4 linked regions of the Homo sapiens genome follow. The protein of the gene in region 3 purifies or fractionates together with the protein of the main gene of each other region. This does not show direct contact. Each region holds a gene or a part of one and is shown on either strand. Other genes may lie near its edges. The genes, in order: EME1, TPRKB, SPOCK2 and SLC25A14.

Region 1 (2,877 bases), on a different chromosome or scaffold from region 3:
TGGTGCAGGGGAGGAAATCAAAGAACAGCAGCTCCAGGCTGAAGTCAGGCAGAAGATACAGAAGAAGACTGGACCAGAGCATCCCCCTGGACTTGTTAGAGATGGACTACCTTGCAGAGTGACCTACATCTGCAATGAATAAACTAAACTCACCCCCCTTGGCCCAAGAGCTGCCCCTTTTAACATGAAATCACCAGGGCAAATCCAAACCTGAAGCATTTCTCCTGATCCACAATCACCAGTGACAGAGCTTTCCCTGCTGTCTTTGCTGTGATGTCAGTTACAAAGCCCTGAAGCGTTTCCTTCCCTTTCATAGTGCTGTCCAGGCTTCCCTGCATGAAGGGGCAGAAACTGCATTAATACTTGCTTCCTAGTAAGAGTCAGCCCTCTGTTCCGTGTCCTCCCACCCTCTGGCTCTGCCCACCTGCTTTCCATTGTCGATCATGGACACAAATGCCTCTGCCCGGAGCAACACCAGTACTGTTGGCTCCTCCACCCAGTCCTCTCTGTCCTGCCAAAGTACCCAGAACACAGCACAGGGAGGGAGGTCAGCAGGTATTGAGCACCTGTGAGAGTGGCCCAGGTCTTCTGGGTGAATGAACTAACTCCCACCCCTTATGCATTATCCTTTCTGGAATGAAGTCACTGTGGCAAGAAACAGTGTCGCTGTCCCTCCCAGCCCTCAATGATTCAGTCTTGGTGCCCTGCATCTCAGAGACAGTGAATAAGAAAGGAACATAGCAGCCGGGCGCGGTGACTCACGCCTGTAATCCCAGCACTTTGGGAGGCCGAGGTGGGCAGATCACGAGGTCGGAGATCAAGCCCATCCTGGCCAACACGGTAAAACCCCATCTCTATTAAAAATACAAAAATTAGCTGGGTGTGGCGGTACGTGCCTGTAATCCCAGCTACTCGGGAGACTGAGGCAGGAGAATTGCTTGAAACTGGGAGGTGGAGGTTGCAGTGAGCCGAGATCATAACACTGCACCCCAACCTGGCAACGGGGCTAGACTCCATCAAAAAAAAAAAAAGGAACATAGCAGGCCAGGCACGGTGGCTCACACCTGTAATCCCAATCCCAGCACTTTGGGAGGCCTAGGCGGGCGGATCACCTGAGGTCAGGAGTTCGAGACCAGCCTGGCCAACATGGTGAAACCCCGTCTCTACTAAAAATACAAAAATATTAGCTGGGCGTGGTGGTACACGCCTGTAATCCCAGCTACTTGGGAGGCTGAGGCAGAAGAATCACTTGAACCCAGAAGGCAGAAGCTGCAGTGAGCCGAGACCATGCCATTGCATTCTAGCCTGGGCAGCAGGGTGAAACTCTGTCTCAAAAAAAAAAAAAGAGAGAAAAAAGGAACATAGCAAGTTGAAAGGGGCTGGGGCCATTTTGAATACGGGAATGGAGGGAAGGGAAACTCTTCCAAAGGTTAGTACAAGTAAATGACTCTGGCTTTGAAGGCAGATGCTGTGAGCCGAGTGGTCCTTACAAACAGATAGGTTTTTTTGTGACAAAGACAAGAATCACAAGGGAAACTTCAGTCTATGAGAGTACCTCCTGTTTATCACAGGTAGGGCATAATCAAAGTCAAGGATGCCTCAAGGCCAACAATCCTCCAGCAGTACAGTATTATGGAGTAATTGGGGAACAGGACTTTGATAGAAAGTTTTCTGATTGGGTCCCTATAAGCAAAGCAAGACCTATATTACAGCAAAGTGTAGGTTTGGGGAGCTCTGGGTTCTCATTCCCGTTGTGATCCTCAACAAGGCTTTTAACTTTTCTGAGCCCCAGTTTCCCCACCTGTGATGTGGGGAGAAGTCCTACCCCATAGGATGACTGATGGAAACACAAGAGAGAATGTGGGAGTGCCTTGAGAGGGTAAGCTGCTCTATGAATATAAAGGCTTGCTAATACCCCCAGAGTAAAAAGTGTGGGGAACTGTCCTGTGTTACTGAGAAAGTTATCAGATCCAAAAAAGAAATCAAAGAGAGGAAAAAAAAATCTTTTTTCTTATTTTATACAAGATGCTTCTGGTGAGATAAAAAAGAATCTTAGTGCTAGGCAAGGTGCCTCACACCTGTAATCGCAGCATTTTGAGAGGCTGAGGCAGGTGGATTGCTTGAGCTCAGGAGTTGAAGACCAGCCTGGGCAACATGGCAAAACCCCGTCTCTACCAAAAATACAAGCTACACTCTGCAATCTCTACAAAAAACACAGGGCCCACATGTCTTCTGGCTCCCAGCTGGGTGTCACCAGCAGGGACCCGAGGAGAGGACTAGTGGGAAGGAGAAAAGTGAAGTCAGGGTATTTTTCCCCTGGCTCCCTCCCAGTGGGGTCACCTAGGGTTTGCTGTCCCCCTCTGTGGCAGCTCATAGCTTCGCTCAAGGTGGTCCTCTCTCCATTTCTCTCTCCTGAATTCTGTTAACCACTCCTTCCCCTCATCCCTTCAGGCATAGGGATGGTAACAGCTATGCCAATGGTTCTCAACCGGGGGTGATTTTTCCCCACAAATGACATCTGGCAGTGTCTGCAGACATTTTTTATTGTCATGACTGAGAGGGGTACATTAGTAGATAGTGGCCAGGAATGCTGCTAAACATTGTGCACATCATAGGACAGCACCCAAAACAAAGAATTCTCCAATCTAAAATGTCAACAATACTGAGGTCGAAAAACCTAAGTTGTGCTGTTATTACTGTGAGGTACCATGCTGTCACTGGTAGTTTCCTCATACCCTGCCCATGCCTTGGCAAACAGTCCCTTTATTCAATCTTCTTTTAATTACCCTGAGTTGAATGTGCCATCTGTCTTCCTGCTGGGGCCCTGATAAGTATCCTTTAAAATAAAAGCATATTTATCCTGTAATTGTAAGGGGA
Region 2 (2,487 bases), on a different chromosome or scaffold from region 3:
ATTAGGCGTGGATATTTTGTGTGCTAGCCTGCATATCATTCTCTCTTCCCGTAAACTCCTTGAGGGTGGGATCCATGTCTTTTTCATATACCAGGAACTTGCTTGTACCTATAACAGTCCTTAACACAGCCTCACTCACACACCCAGTACATAGGTAGAGTTTGTGGTTTGAAATACTTATAGTAATGCTTTTTCAATGAAAGTTATCAAGCTAAAGACATCACACATGTAGCACATGAAAAAAATGACTGCAATTTTGCTGATGAAGTTTTAGTATTACTGCTGCTGTTAATAACAACCAGGTACTAATGTCATCTACAGGAAACCTGTAGCATAGGTTAAAATACAGATGATTGACAAGTTTATAAAATGCAGTTATCTCAGCATGGTAATAGAGATTCCCAGTACCTGGAATAAAATTTACTAATTATGGTTTCCTTGAGATCATTAGACATAATTCAGAAAACTCTTGAATTCAGTAAACATCTGTTGAACTTTTTCCCCGTTCCATTTACAGTTCTAGGGGCAGAAGAGGCAAATATGTTCCTGAGGAGAGGCAGATAAACAAGACAAGTTAAAATGCCCTAAGATAAATGATATAATGGGAAAATGAATTCAAATCTAGGGGTACAGCAATGAAGCCATTCATTTTGGAGGGAGGAGGGTGTGGTGGGGAGTGGCATCAGAACTGTGGACCCTGAAGCATGTGTTCAGCAGCCAAGCCATGAGGAGAAGGGACATGCGAGCAGAGGACAAAGCTTGAGCACAGGCAGAAGGGCATGAAATGTGACTGGATCCCCAGGCAGGCTGGACTGGCCAGAAGGCAGAAGCGCCTGGCTGGAGGGCCACTTGGCACCAGAGGGAGGAGGTGTTTTTGTGCAGCGCCAAGAGGCTGGGCTTGATTCCATAGGAACAAGGCGTACCTTTAAGCAGGGAGTGCTTTTGAGGAAGTGCCAATGGATGTTGGAAAGGAATCATTAAAGTGAAAAAGTAGGCAGTGAGAACTGTTAGGACATGAAAAATAAGAGCCTGACCAAGGAAGAAGGCAGATCAGGAAATGTTTCAGACGTAGGAAACAATGGTTAATGATCTTGTGTTTTTTTTTTCATTTTTTTTCTCTTAGATTTCAGAGGCTTTGAAAAAATTTGGTATCTCAGCAAATGACACTTCAATTCTAATTGTTTACATTGAAGAGGGAGAAAAACAAATAAATCAAGAATACCTAATATCTCAAGTAGAAGGTCATCAGGTTTCTCTGAAAAATCTTCCTGAAATAATGAATATTACAGAAGTCAAAAAGGTTTGCCAGTCCATATTTTTAGAAAGAGTGTGATAGATGAGCAATAATGCTGATGCCGTTTGCCTATTGATCACCAGAGCTCCTTGTTTTTTGAACTTTTGAGAAAGTTAATCTAATTTTAAAAATTACTTAAAAATTACAGATACAAAGAACTGGGAGGTGTGATGGTTTATGTAAAATATAATTACAAACTCAGCTGACATAACCATTCTCCACATTAAGAAAGAGAATACCTTTAAATATCAAACTTACATAGTATATTTAAAATGTAAAATAAATTTAGTATGCTTTTAAAATGGATAGAAATTTGGTTTTTATGTTCTTGAGAGTTACTCCCATAGCAGCAATTTAAAGGGGATACAAGTAATGAATTGCCCTCTACTTTGAATATTTTAATCACATTTGTTGTTTGTTATACCATGAACCCAATAATTGAATGAGGAATAATTTCACTTACACATGTTTGTATAATGACAATTAGTAGTGAATGACGATATCAGCAAGTCATAATTTGTCTTTCATTTTTACAGATATATAAACTCTCTTCACAAGAAGAAAGTATTGGGACATTATTGGATGCTATCATTTGTAGAATGTCAACAAAAGATGTTTTATGAAATGTCAGAAATATTAACAAAAATTCTCAGCATTAAAGAAAACATTGATTTTCCTTTCCTGACTATAAAACTAATTGTGCATTATAGAAAAGTTTAAATCACAGAATGGTATTAAAAAAAAAAAAAAAAGGCCAGGCACGGTGGCTCACGCCTGAAATCCCAGCAATTTGGGAGGCCAAGGCAGGTGGATCACCTGAGGTCAGGAGTTCAAGACCAGCCTGGCTAACATGGTGAAACCCCATCTCTACTAAAATACAAAAATTAGCTGGGCATGATGGCAGGTGCCTGTAATCCCAGCTATTCGGGAGGCTGAGACAGGAGAATCGCATGAACCTGGGAGGCACAGGTTGCAGTGAGCTGAGATCGTGCCATAGCACTCCAGCCTGGGCAGCTGAGCGAGACTCCGTCTCAAAAAAAAAAACCAAAAAAAAAAAAAACAAAAAAACCACTTGTAGTCCTACCTCGTTGTATTTTAAAAGATAATCAGTTACTATTACTTGTTATTGCCTTCTAGAGTTCTGTTTCTATTCAAATATATTTTATTTTTATATAATTAGAATAAAAATTGCA
Region 3 (3,009 bases):
AGGGACAGCTCTCTCTGTTGGTCTGGGCAGGACAGGAGTGTTAAGGGTCAGGGAGGAGGTGGGCACACACCCCCTTAGCCTAGACCCAGGCTCCTTGCCTGCTGCTCCTGGCCCTCAGGCGCCCTCAAGTGGATGAGGGGACCCCAGCAAGGGGGATGGAGGCAGGAGTTGCACCAAGGGGGAGCCAGGCAGAGGTCAACTGTGTAACCACCACCCAGTGTCCCCAAGAGAGCAGCCCAGATCATGGCTCCACCACGAGACCCAGAGAAAAGGGACAGGCTATTCCAGGGTCTAGGATTCAGAGCTGCCCCATCTCAACACCTAAAAGCTCCCCCAGGCTCTGCAGCCACAGCCTCCTCCTGCTGAGCCGACCCCCTCTCCTCACCCTGTTCTACCTGCACCACCTGGGCCACCTGGGACAGACCTCAGACAGCTTGGCGAGGCACCCTGTCCCTGGCCTCTCAGCTGCTGCCCTCCTCCTCTGCCGCCACCACCTTCATTCTCCGCCTTGGGTTAGGAGAGCTTCTCTAGTGTTTGGGGATCCGGCAAAGGGACAGGGCTTGCTGTGGCTGGGCGTCCTGGCCCGTCTCATCTGAGGCTGGTGGGGATGTCACACCACATCGGCCCAGTTTTGGGAGGACCTCAGCTGGTAGACAGCTCCCTGCCCCTCCCTCCCCTTTGCAATGGGGACAGGCTCGCAGGCCAGAGCTTGACCTCAGAAGCAAGAGGGAGAAGGGCAGACAGGGGTCGGTTGAGCCAGGGTAGAAACCAAGGGGAGCCAGGGTAGAAACCAAGGGGTCAGGGCTGGGCTGGAGGACACGGCTGGGGGATCTCATTTCATGGATTTTGACCTGTCAATTTGTATTTGTGTGTGAATGTATTTTAAAACCAACAACAAAAGGAAAGAAAACAGCTACAAGGAGGCCGAAGGGGCCTTTGGGTGACTCACTCTGCCAGGAGCAGTGTGGATCAAGGACACATTTGTCAGCGCATGCCACACACACACACACATACACACATGCATGCACACATGCACTCACACTGTCACCCGTCCCAGCCATCTGTGCCACACACATGCCATGCACACTCACACTCCCAGTCCCCCCAGGTGGAGCAGGGTCCTTCTGACTGCATTTCTGGATCCGTTCTCGAAGTTGCCTGCTGCTGCTCAGAGCTCTGCTGTTGAGTCCCCCCCGGCAGCCGGCTCCTGAGGGCGTCTACCAGATGTAGCCCCCGTCGTCAGCCTCGCCTGCCTCGCCCTCCTCCTCCTCGGCCTCCTCGCCTGCTTCCTCCGTCTCCTTCTCCTCCTCATCCTCCCAGCCGACACCGCTTCCAAAGTCCCCCGAGAAGCCCACGATGTCATCTGTGAGGGGATCAAGCCAACAGGGGGTGAGGGAGCTTCTGGCACGCACCCCCCAGCATCCCACGACAAGGGCCCCCAGGCCTGGGCCCCCAGCAGGCCCTGAGCTGCCCAGCCCGTACCGCAGTCGGGGCTCCCATGCGTGCGCGTGCCAGTCAGCTCCAGGCCCAGCTGGTCCACACACCAGCAGTCACCGCTGCTCTGGTCACACTGCATCTTCCGGTAGTAGCCATCCTCGTCGCAGCTCGGGATGAAGATGCCTGAATGAGACAGTGCCAGGCAGGGTCAGAGCAGGGGCCCAGGCTGTGGGCCCCTCAGAGAGGTGACCTCAGGTCCTCATGCATGAGCAGAAGTCTATACACCCCCAGAGCCCAGCCAGACCGGGTGCTGACCCCCCAACAGGCCCAGATGCTGAGAGCTGGACACCAGCCAGCAATTCTTTCGGCTCTACTCGCTGGAGATGAGGAAACCCGCTTCCTTGAACCACTGCTCAGGCCCCTGTGCTAGCTCCCAGCCGCCCCATCAGTTTCCCTGACTCCATGGCCCAAGTCTTCTAGGACAGCCAGTCTGACTTCACCAGGTTTGACACTCTCCATCCTCCCACAGTTCCGCCGGCCTGGCTGTCCCCTGCTAGGAAGGCCCAGCCTTCTCCTCCCAGCCACTCTGAGTCCGACCTGCCTCCGGGGCCCACTTGCTTTCCTGCAGGCTCCCCAGCTGAAGCTCCCAGGCGCCTGTGTACAGGTCACACTGCTAGTTCTGTCTTTTTAGTGTGTCCATTTGTGTGTTGTGTGTTTCCGGACTGGCCCGAGCTAAAGGGTTATGAGGCCAGGGAGTGCATCCTTCTTGCCATCCGCTCAGAGTTGGGCTGGGTCTATTGCTGTTGTATCTCTGGGGCCGGCCCCCAGGTGTTTATGGAGCATGTGAGTGAGTGTCACTCAGGGAGTGGCCTCACTAAAACATTAGTCACACCCTTGCTGAAGGAAACTGAACTCAGTGGAGGGTTCCAGGATCCTTCTGTATCCCAAACTCTAGCTCCAGCATGGATGGGCATAAAATTAGTGCCTAAAACACACTTTTCCCGGGGCAGATTGGGAGTCCCTGCCCCACCACAAGGATAGACACAGGAAGGGGGCAACCCTCTTCTGTCTTCCTAGGCCAGGGCCTCCTCTGGGCTCCATGTCTGCCATGAGGCCCAAGGCTGGAGGCCCTGGGTCTCAGACAAACCCAGGAAGCCGTCCCCACCTCCTCCTCTGAGAGCCTGGTCTGGCCCCTCACCTGGCTTCTTCTTGGCGGCCTCCTGGATCTGGATGCGCTCCAGCTCTGCCAGGCAGGGGGGCTCTGTGGGGAGAGAAGCAGCCTCTGATGGGACTGTCCCCTGGTGCTGGGGGGATGCACTGAGCCCTTCAAGGCTTAGAGACCCAGGCAGGGGCTCTGCAAGATGAAAACACCCCGTTTCTGACACGGGGTCACCCCACAGCAGGGGTGGGAAGTACAAGGGTTCTATGGCACGAAAACGCTCACTCTCTATTTAGGGGAGCTCATTCCACAGCTGTGGATGACCTGAGGTCCCCAAGAAGTCCTAGGGACCCATGAGAGGAGTAACAGGATTCAGAAGAGGAGGTGGGGTGAACACACAGACACCCAAGTAT
Region 4 (3,500 bases), on a different chromosome or scaffold from region 3:
GAGATAGAGTCTTACTGTATTGCCCAGGTTTGTCTAGAACTCCTCCTCAAGTGATCCTCCTGCCTCACCCTCTCAAAGTGCTGGGATTACAGGCATGAGCCCCTGTGCCTGGCCTTCTTTTACTTAAAAGAAAAATCGTTATAGCCATCCTAGTAGGTATGAAGTGGTATGTCCTTGTGGTTTTGATTTGCATTTCTCTAGTGACTAATGATGTTTAGCATCTTTTCGTGTGCTTATTGGCCATTTGTGTATCTTTTTTGAAGGAAATATCTTCAGGTCTTTTGGCCATTTTAAAATTGGATTGTTTGCCTTTTTTGTTGTAAGAGTTATTTATATATTCTTGACACTAGTCCCTTATCAGATATATGAGCGGCAAATGTTTTTTTCCTTTGTGTATGTTGACTCTTCACTTTCTGAGTGGTGTCTTTTGAGTCATAAAAGTTTTTAATTGTGATGAAGTCCAGTTGATCTTTTTTTTTTCTTTTGTCTTTTGTGCTTTGGGTGTCATATCAATTATTTTATTTTTAGTATAGCAAGTGAATTGGAAATTTGTATATGTTCCATTATTAGTCATTGATTTGAAAGAGTGACGTCTGTACTTCAGACTTGTATTTTTCTGTTACTTTTCAACTCCTGACCTATTTTGTTCACTCTAAGACATCACTCCCTTTGTATTTCCTTGGTGCCTAATGTCACTTGTGTTTCGTAGGGTGTGGTTCCAACTGCTCAGCGTGCTGCCATCGTTGTAGGAGTAGAGCTACCAGTCTATGATATTACTAAGAAGCATTTAATATTGTCAGGAATGATGGGCGATACAATTTTAACTCACTTCGTGTAAGTAGGATGGGATGTGCTCATTTTATTTCCAGCATTTTGAGCACAAAAAGCCTCTTTTACTGAAATCCTCAGGTGGAATTTGATAACTGGTACGTATGGCCTAAATTCCCTTGTCTCTCCTATTATCAGAACTTCAAGCCTTATGAACACTTTATACTTCACAGAAATGCCAGGTGCTATGGGGGCTTGGGTACTTGGGAACATTGTCTAATACAGCAGCCTATCAGAGGTCTATTTGATTTACATTTATCCATACATAGCTTCTATATCTAATAAGCACATCTATTATTTGCTTTGGTTAATTTTGTTTGAGAAAGCAAACTTTTCTCAGTGGGAATCAGAAAAAAAGGGGTAAATAAGGTCTGTGAAACTAAAGCACAGTTTTTTGGCTAAAGACTGTTACTGATCTCATTTTACATTTTCTTTGTCTTGCAACCTTTATGATAATTTTGTTACTCAAATGCATTTGGCATGTGATGCTGTGGTTTGAAAAATTTATGTAACTAATACATGGTGCATGATACTTTCTACTTAGGAATCTTGTTAGGTTTAGAAACTCTCCTTTAAAAAAAAGGCTGAGTTTCAGATTGAAAATTGAAGGGACAGCCTTTGAATGATGTCTCTTTAGAAAAATTTCCTGTCTCTTTAGATTGTAACGAAAGGCCAAGTGCCAGGTTTTATCTGATGGGTCTGAGTTATATTGTACAGTTTACGTTTGGCCTAATTTCTGTTTAAGTGGGCAGGGAGTGAAAGTGGGGTCGATCTACTTAAACTTTTCCTCTTAGTTCCAGCTTTACATGTGGTTTGGCTGGGGCTCTGGCCTCCAACCCGGTTGATGTGGTTCGAACTCGCATGATGAACCAGAGGGCAATCGTGGGACATGTGGATCTCTATAAGGGCACTGTTGATGGTATTTTAAAGGTAAGTACATTGTGGATTTGGGTTACAATTTGGCTTTCTTTGATGTCTTAGACCTTCCTTCAGTTCTTATTATTAGTTGCTACATACCATTTTGAAGATGAAAGAATCATATTTTTTTAGTAGCTTCTCAGTTATTCCCAGGTAGAAAAGCTGTCTCCTTAGCAATCTGCTAATTTGCAGTGGTACTTAATATAATGATTCCCATTTGAATGCTTTAAAATACAGGATGCTTTTATTAATAGTATCATGTAGAATTATTGATAGAAAAGACAATATATCCCCCATTTGCCTACTTCATACAACACAGAGACCCTGCAATAGAAAACTCAATACTTAAGGAAAAAAGCCTGTATTTTATTTCAGTTCACGGTTATGCTGTTGTTCACTTTGGCTTTGAAAGTTCCTGCTGTTGTGTTTGTGGGAACTGAATATTCTAAAAGTATTACATCATTACTGGTGATATTATTGCTACTGAAAACAAATTGAGGCTAAAATATGATGTTGCCATATGGTTTCTCTCCTGTTATCAGTTTTGTTTAACAACTATTACATATTAGACACCATTTTAGTAGTTAGAGAGAAATTACAGTTATTACAAAAGTACTATAGGTATACAAACGGATCATCAGTACAGCCTGATAAGTGATAAACTCAAGAGTTCTCAATTTGGAAGCATTGAGGTAGGCTCCCTGTAGATGGTGGCATCTTGAATAACAATAACTCATATCCACTGAGTGCTTTTTTGTGTGTCAGCAACTGTCCTTATGAGACTTATGTGTATTCGTTCATTGAATCCTCACCATTACTCCACGAGGTAGACACTGAAGCACTGAAAGATTAAGTAAGCTGCCTAAGGTTTCACAGCTACTAAGTGGGAGAACTGGAATTTAAACTCAGATCACTTGACCTCAAACTGACATTTACCTCTCCACTATGGTGCTTTCCTCATATTGGTGGCCAAGGGTTAGATTATAAAGGATACTGAATGCTATATTGAGGTGCTTGGACTTTTTTTTAACTTGTCAGGGAGCTGTTGAAAGTTTTTAATCAGATTAGCTTTGCATTTTAAATAGATTACTTTGGCTTTATGGAGACTGGATCTACCACAGTGGTTCCTCATCTTGGGTACACATTGGAATCACTTGGGAGAACTTTCGCAGCTCCCTCCTCTACCTTAGACCAATTAACTCAGAACCTGGGGAGTAAGGTCCAGGTGTCAATATTTTAAACTATATCAGGTGACTGCAATGTTCACCTAAGGTTGAAGACTACTAAGGGGATAAGCCTGGAGCCATGGTTCTTCAAAGTTTAACATGCATCAGAATTACCTGGAGGGCTTGTTAAACTGCAGTTCACTTGGAGCCATCTCCAGATTCTGATTTAGTAAGTATGGAGTGGGACCTGGAAATTTGCATTTTTAATAAATTCCCAGGCAATACTGATGTTGCTAGTCTGGAGACCACACTTGGAGAACCACTGACCTACAGATAGGGAAGCTGATTAGAAGGCTCTTGTAATCTGAGAAAGAGGGGATGAAGGCCTGAACTTGAGCATGATAATGGAGATATAGAAGGTGGGACAGAGTCAAGAAAGAATTAGTTGATAGAGTCAGCAGGATTTGATTGACTGGATGTGGAGGGGTGTGGGAGAAAAGAGGTGTCAAAGATAAGTTCTGGGTTTTTGGAGTTGGTGACCAGGTGGTGACATTCATTGACAGAGGCATCACAAGAGGAGCACGTCTT

Evidence for each region.
Region 1: the proteins of SPOCK2 (region 3) and EME1 purify together in Homo sapiens (affinity purification with mass spectrometry; one large-scale study listed by BioGRID and IntAct). This does not show direct contact.
Region 2: the proteins of SPOCK2 (region 3) and TPRKB purify together in Homo sapiens (affinity purification with mass spectrometry; one large-scale study listed by BioGRID and IntAct). This does not show direct contact.
Region 4: the proteins of SPOCK2 (region 3) and SLC25A14 purify together in Homo sapiens (affinity purification with mass spectrometry; one large-scale study listed by BioGRID and IntAct). This does not show direct contact.

Annotation. Positions count from the first base shown.
Region 1 is NC_000017.11:50,376,229-50,379,105, reverse strand, and holds part of EME1 (structure-specific endonuclease subunit EME1), read right to left. Parts: intron 512-2,877; coding exon 425-511; intron 333-424; coding exon 211-332; intron 39-210; coding exon of another isoform or gene 1-38. UniProt on the Homo sapiens protein: Non-catalytic subunit of the structure-specific, heterodimeric DNA endonuclease MUS81-EME1 which is involved in the maintenance of genome stability. In the complex, EME1 is required for DNA cleavage, participating in DNA recognition and bending.
Region 2 is NC_000002.12:73,729,373-73,731,859, reverse strand, and holds the end of TPRKB (EKC/KEOPS complex subunit TPRKB), read left to right. Parts: intron 1-1,123; coding exon 1,124-1,300; intron 1,301-1,830; coding exon 1,831-1,917; 3' UTR 1,918-1,987; downstream 1,988-2,487. UniProt on the Homo sapiens protein: Component of the EKC/KEOPS complex that is required for the formation of a threonylcarbamoyl group on adenosine at position 37 (t(6)A37) in tRNAs that read codons beginning with adenine.
Region 3 is NC_000010.11:72,061,543-72,064,551, forward strand, and holds part of SPOCK2 (testican-2 isoform 2 precursor), read right to left. Parts: intron 2,699-3,009; coding exon 2,636-2,698; intron 1,621-2,635; coding exon 1,483-1,620; intron 1,364-1,482; coding exon 1,218-1,363; 3' UTR 1-1,217. UniProt on the Homo sapiens protein: May participate in diverse steps of neurogenesis. Binds calcium.
Region 4 is NC_000023.11:130,363,919-130,367,418, forward strand, and holds part of SLC25A14 (brain mitochondrial carrier protein 1 isoform 1 precursor), read left to right. Parts: intron 1-709; coding exon 710-834; exon of another isoform or gene 835-1,622; coding exon 1,623-1,758; intron 1,759-3,500. UniProt on the Homo sapiens protein: Transports inorganic anions (sulfate, sulfite, thiosulfate and phosphate) and, to a lesser extent, a variety of dicarboxylates (e.g. malonate, malate and citramalate) and, even more so, aspartate and glutamate and tricarboxylates.